Linked DNA regions of Homo sapiens. The gene in region 1 interacts genetically with each later gene. Each region holds a gene or a part of one and is shown on either strand. Other genes may lie near its edges.

Evidence for each region. Genes that interact genetically often act in the same process or in processes that back each other up.
Region 2: changes in RAB2A (region 1) and SEC24C together harm fitness less than expected from each alone (positive genetic interaction), as found in Homo sapiens cells (one large-scale study listed by BioGRID).

The regions. Positions count from the first base shown.
Region 1 is NC_000008.11:60,617,926-60,621,162, forward strand, and holds part of RAB2A (ras-related protein Rab-2A), read left to right. Parts: intron 1-654; coding exon 655-723; intron 724-2,748; coding exon 2,749-2,844; 3' UTR 2,845-3,237.
Region 2 is NC_000010.11:73,764,773-73,768,430, reverse strand, and holds part of SEC24C (protein transport protein Sec24C), read right to left. Parts: intron 2,981-3,658; coding exon 2,842-2,980; intron 2,632-2,841; coding exon 2,516-2,631; intron 2,346-2,515; coding exon 2,221-2,345; intron 2,082-2,220; coding exon 1,890-2,081; intron 1,672-1,889; coding exon 1,578-1,671; intron 1,378-1,577; coding exon 1,261-1,377; intron 595-1,260; coding exon 424-594; intron 1-423. UniProt on the Homo sapiens protein: Component of the coat protein complex II (COPII) which promotes the formation of transport vesicles from the endoplasmic reticulum (ER).

The sequences.
Region 1 (3,237 bases):
CCATGGATTTGCCTATTCTAGACATTTCGTACAAATGGAGTTGTAGTATTGTGGCGTTTTGTGTCTGCCTTCTTTCATTTAGCACAGTGTTTTCAAGGTTCATCCACATTGTAGCATGAATCAGTACTTCATTCCTTTTTATGGCCAAATAATATTCTACTAATTGAATATCTCAAATTTTGTTTTTTATTGACTGAACATTTCTGTAGTTTGCACTTGTTGGCTGTTGTGAATAATGCTGTTTGTAATGCTAATTAGCATGTGCGTACATCCTTTGTTCTTAATCTTAGGGGAAAGGCTTTCAGCCTTCATCTTCGAATATGATGTTAGATGTAGTTTTTCTTAGATGCCATTCTTTAGATCAGGTTGAGGAGTTCCCTTCTATTTCGACTTGAGTGTTTTTATCATGAAATGTTGGATTTTGTCAAATGCTTTTTCTATGTCTATTGATGATCATGAGGGCTTGTTTATTAATATAATGTATTACATCGATTGTTCTTTATTAATATGTTATTAATATCTTTGTTCTTTATTAATATGTATTACGTCGATTGACTTTCATATGTTGAATGTTATGATATTCTATAGAGCATATATAATGTTATTTTACTGCTTTGGTTTTATATAATATGAACCAATTTCTCTATATTTCAGGCATTTATTAATACAGCAAAAGAAATTTATGAAAAAATTCAAGAAGGAGTCTTTGACATTAATAATGAGGTATATACATATAAATATTGTTGGTCAATATTAATTTAGAGTTCACTTTTGATTACTATTTTATATTTTTTATTTTATAATTCATTATTTTATAATTTTTTTAATTCCTAAAATCAATCATGATAATCAGTTAACACCATTAGTTTACAGTCATCCAACTGAAAAATTGGTATATGTGGTATAGTAGTTAAATATTTATGTTCTAGTAGAGCAACACTTTGTCTATGGAAATGGATTAAAGTAAGTGGCCCTATCCATTCATTGCAAGCAATGCAAAATAATATAAATCCCCCAAAGAGAAAAGAAAATCCACTTTTATCCACATGACCATATGGTGTCATCTGCTTTGGGAATAATGTTCTGGTATATAAATGCATGTACTATGTACTAATGCAAGATGCTCTCTCTGTTATCTGGCAGGAAAGAGGGAAATACCAAATTTGGAAATTACTCCCAATATAGCATAGCATGTTTTCAGGAGACTAAATTCATATATATATATATAAAATTGGCATTTGGCATAGGGTTTTTTGTAATGTTATTTTGATCCTGTTTTGGTCAACATGATTAGGATAAAATGTAAAGCTTTGAAGCATCTAATTCAGAGTGTTCACCAAAGATCATCACTTGACCCACATCCCCACTCTGCATTTATCTGTATTTATTTCAAAATGTTTATGTGGATGTAGCCTACTTATTCTTACATAAATATTTTTGCCATTCTGTATTAAGATTTCTGGCTTCTGAAAGAAAAGCCCTGGTTTCTCCCCAGTTGCAGTTAGAAAAGCATTGTGTTAGGAAGCCATTATGTATGTCTCTCTCATCCTATACATAAATGAGGCTCTCTATTACTTCAGTAGTCTCTGCTCAGACAAACAGCAGTTTACCTAAGGTTTCCAAAAAGTACATGATTTTTTCATTGTTTAATTTGGAGTAATATAGTTTCTAAATCCTATCTTCTAGGCTTATATGACGGTACTTCTTGAGTTAGTTTAAAGGTGACACCATTCAGAGACTAATGCCATATAAATTGAACAGTAATTGGGCCTCTATCTAAAAGGGCACATTCATTGTTTCTGTCTGGTTTCATATAGTAGCTGACTGCTTTACTGTGCCTTATGCAGCTTTGATTGTAATGTGCTGTTGGGAGCCAACAGGCCGTGCTATTTATTTGGCCTAATGCCAAGTCTGACTCCTTGACTCCTCAAGAAGTTGCTACCAGCCCAGAGGGGGCAAAATCAATGAGCCATAGGGCATGCTTTTTATTAAAGAGGAGTCAAAAGAGCGAAAAGAAACCACATCAGCTGCTGTCAATACTGAGCTAGTGCCAGAAACCCCAAGGCTACTACTGTTGCAGAACAACTGCCAAGCACTATAAATCTGAGATTTACTGTGACGTAAAGTTTCCTTAAGAGCTTAATTTCTGAAGCTACTGTATTACTTTTCTCAAAGTGTTGTATTTTTAGGTAAAATCCACTTGAGGGAGTGAGGGTTAAGACATAAGTGTGAGTTTGATGAATGAAAGAACTACTCTGTGTGTGGGTTCTTGGCAAGCTGCCATGTCTTTGGGGATCATAGAAATTATTGATGACACAGAACACTCATATGCCCTTAGCCTGTACAGCTGATTCAACATGGAACAGAAACACTGTCTAGAGAAAAGATTTTACGTTGTATTAAAGCAGCATGGGCTTTGGGTATTTTTATGCTTTAAAGATTACTTGCAATAATTATTTTAAATGATTTCTGCATTATGAGAATTTCCTGAAAAGCAGCATTATCCAATAACTGTTTACCCCGTACCTGGTATGATAAAGAATTATTTTCAGAAACATTTCCACAGTGTTTTTAAAAGGAAGGAACATCCCTTAGGAGATATTGTTTTAATTGTTGCTAAAATCTACTTGCTGTATTTTTCTCAGTTGTTTGATAAAATTGTATCATAAAGAATTAAATGAGTTTTTTAAGAATTAGTTAAACTATATTGTCTGGTCATATTTATTGTTCTGTTCTCTTTTATTTCAGGCAAATGGCATTAAAATTGGCCCTCAGCATGCTGCTACCAATGCAACACATGCAGGCAATCAGGGAGGACAGCAGGCTGGGGGCGGCTGCTGTTGAGTCTGTTTTTACTGTCTAGCTGCCCAACGGGGCCTACTCACTTATTCTTTCACCCCCTCTCCTCCTGCTCAGCTGAGACATGAAACTATTTGAAATGGCTTTATGTCACAGAAGACTTTAATCCGTCAAATTCTTGTATAACTTTGAATAAATGGTTAATGTTCACTTAAAAGACAGATTTTGGAGATTGTATTCATATCTATTTGCATTTGATTTCTAGGTCAATTGATGTGATTATTTTTGTTAAATGTTGTCTTGTGCCCTTAACTACGAACTGAATTGTATTAAACACTACAAAGTCATCTTGAGTATTTTAAATCGGTTTGTGTAGTTAGGTTTCCCAACATCTGTGGTTACCTAATGTTTAATATTATAGAACTGTCCTCAGAAACT
Region 2 (3,658 bases), on another chromosome or scaffold:
CTCACTTCTTCAGACTATGCAGTCTTCTCTTCCAACACTATTTCTTCTTTTTTGGAGACGGAGTCTTACTCTGTCGCTCTGGCTGGAGTGCAGTGGCGCAATCTCGGCTCACCACAACCTCCACCTCCCGGGTTCAAGGGATTCTTAGCTTCCTGAGTAGCTGGGATTACAGGCGCCCGCCACCACACCCGACTAATTTTTGTATTTTTCGTAGAGATGGGGTTTTGCCATGTTGGCCAGGCTGGTCTTGAACTCCTGACCTCAGGTGATCTGCCTGCCTCAGCCTCCCAAAGTGCTAGGATTACAGGTGTGAGGCACCGTGCCTGGCCCCAACACTATTTCTATTAATGAGTCAGCCACTGCATATATAAGCAGATATTCCCAGCCCTGCTGCCACCTGCTGCCCCAAATCCCACACCATACCTGAAAGGAAGCATATTTGTAGACAGAGCCACCAGTGAGCTGGGGCACAACAGAGAGTGTGGCCACATCCACATACTGGTTAGGGAAGAGAAAGAGATCTACACAGCAGCCTTGGGCCACACACTCTTTGGCCAGGGTCTGATAGGCACCTGTCTGAGGCTGGAACAGAGTCTAGGGGGAAAGAAAATGGGGAGAAGAAAATGTTCAAATATCTCAGCTCCGCCCTATTTGAAAACTGTATATCTAGCATGGGATATTCAAATTCATGGAAGACTTCAGATCTACTTCCAAGGATTTTCCAATAGTAAAAAATTTTCTTTTATATTATTTTTATTTTTTTGAGACAGGGTCTCACTCTGTCACCCAGGCTGGCATAGAGTGGCATGATCTCAGCTCACTGCAACCTCTGCCTCCCAGGTTCAAGCGATTCTCCTGCCTCAGACTCCCAAGTAGCTGGGATTACAGGTGTGTGCCACCACACCTGGCTAATTTTTGTATTTTTAGTAGAGACGGGGTTTTGCCATGTTAGTCAGGCTGGTCTCAAACTTCTGGCCTCAAAAATCTGCCCGCCTTGGCCTCCCAAAGCGCTCGGATTACAGGCATGAGCCATCATGCCCGGCCAAAAGTTCTTCTTTAAAAAATAAATAAATACAAGAGTCTACCAACAGCTTTGGCATCAGATGGAGTAGAGAAGTATGGCAGCAGTGGAGGTTGGCAGTCACAGATATGGTATTTGAAAGGGTGGAGTGTCTGGTCCTAGCCACCATCAAGAAAGTAGAGTCCCCACTTCCTCTGTAATGAAAAATCCTTCCCCTCCCCCATTTTCCAGTCCCACACCTTCTCCTTGTCTGTATTGATCAGCTTCCTGTCATCTCTGTTCTTCAGTTTCCCTGGGGCCTCTGCAATGGGCAGGGATGTATGGAATAGAAAGAGCTTCCCTGCACACTCAGCAGCCTAGGAAAAAAGAGAGGACTACTTGTTTATTCTTTATTCATCCATCTCTTCCCTTGTCATTTATTAAGCACCAGCTATGTCAGACAGTCTAACACACTGGACAGTCACCCACTACTGAAGAAAGAGAGGTTGTATCCCAGGGGATAAGATGGTCAGAGGAAAATGGAGTTAGAGGAGGTTGCCCGATACTCCAGCCTTACCTTCAGAGCCTCCATTCCAGCCTGGATAACTGGTACAAATACTGTCTCTGTTTCCCTTGTGTCTGCAAACATTTCTGGAATCTGATCCAATAAGCTAAAGAGATAGGTGACGGAAAACAACCAAAATTGCTATACAGATTCCAGATACCTCAGTTCTCGATTCCCTGAAGAGTCATCAAGCCTCTAGAATCTGACAACTCCTGGGCCACAACCCCTTTCCATCTACTGTCCAATACCTCTGTTCAACTCCATGACCTTCTATGGTGGTACCCATGCCACCCCCAACCTTTACCTCCACAATCTGGCTCTTACCTGGTGATAACTGCCCGAGACTCATTGACGTTGACCAGGAAGCCATCCAGCAGTGGCACAAACATGTCAGCCACATCAGACACAACCATCATCTGTGGCTGGGCCAATGAGCTCTTCACATTATAGAAGTGGAGCACCTTATTGTAGGTGACAAAGCCAACGCGGATTGCTGACTCTTCTGCCCCACCCTCCCTGTAGAAGGTGACATTGTTACCTAGACTTGCCACCTTTTCCACCACCCACAACTTCATGACACCAAGCTACATTTCTTCAGTCAACCCAGACACCCTATCATTAACCTCAGGAAACACCTCAGTTCTGTAACTCTCACCTAGGTAGAAAGTCTAACAGTGACTTGAGCTCCTCACAGAGGAGCCTAACAAGACCAGTCCTGATGGCATTGTAGGAGACGTCAATCATGAAGATAAAGGCAGGAGGGCTGGGGAACTTATTGTTCTGCAGAGGAAGAAAATGTTGGGGAGAGGGGGAATGGTAAGCAGGCCAGTTGACTATAGAGAAGTCAGCATCAAAAAGGGACAAAAAAGGGGTGAGGGAAATGATAACAGCCATTCTCAGCTGTCTCATTATCCTCCACTCACTGCTCCTCCCATGCTACCTTCCCTCACCTTGCAGTAATCTACAGTGGCCAAGAATTCATAAGAGCCCAGGGATAGCTCAGGGCGGTCATAAGCATCCACACGTTTGCCGGTATGATCCAGGTGCTGAAAATACTGGGGGGGAACTGTGGGAAGCATGGCAGTGTGTTACTCGAAGATCCAGTTTCAATCTTAGTATTCTGGCCCTAGCTGAGCTCACACCACTATCCCTCATTCCCATGTGCCCTACTTCCCCAGCTCCTGAAAGATGGACCCTCATCTCTCTAACTATTTAATAGAGAACAAGGAAGATACAATCAAGACCTTCCCCCAAATCCCAGCTTCCATGAACATACCATCATTGATACAGCTGCAAAAACAGCACTGGAAACGCCTCCCTCCTTCAATGAACTGCATGAAGGGACACATGTATGCTTTGCAGCGGTTGCAGCGCAAAGGGCCAGATTCCCCATGGTCCACAACATACGGTGAAGCCTAAGGCGCAAAGGGGAAGGGATCAGACATAAAGGAAAACCACAGTAGGTTCAGCCAGGAGATGAGGAAGAACAACCGGAGGAAGAAGGCGCATGGCGCAGATATTCTGTCTGCAGAGGGAGTAGGGAGCACAATGATGAAAGGGAGTAAAGACAAATCACAGGAAAATGTCCCTATGAGTAAAAATTATATAGTTCCCTCTTCCTACATCCCACCCCCAGAGCTGCATTTCTCACTGAAAGAGAAGAGGAAATGCAAAACCGGCCATATCAGACTAGGGGCTGCCATGGGCATATGAGGGAGAAAGCCAAGATTATCTAGGATTCTCCTTTCTGGCCCCATCTCTAATGCCCTTCACTCTTGCTCTAAGAATCTTGATTCCAGCTCCTTCCCTAACCAAATATCTGTAACACCTCCTCCCGTATCCCTGGGATTCTGTGCCAGTTACTGATGCCCCAGGCAAATGTCACCCTACACATAAGAGACCAGTGCCCAACTATCCCCAATGGGACCCAGATAGAAATAGACAAACACACAGAGAAAGACGGAGAGATAAGCAGAATATAAACTGAGCCTTTGGCTTCTAGTAACAGAGAACCCTATCGTAAGATAAGCAAGGCTGAATATGAGTATCCTACCAAGGCCTGGTGGAGCAGCTGCCTGGCTCGCTCTCTTCAT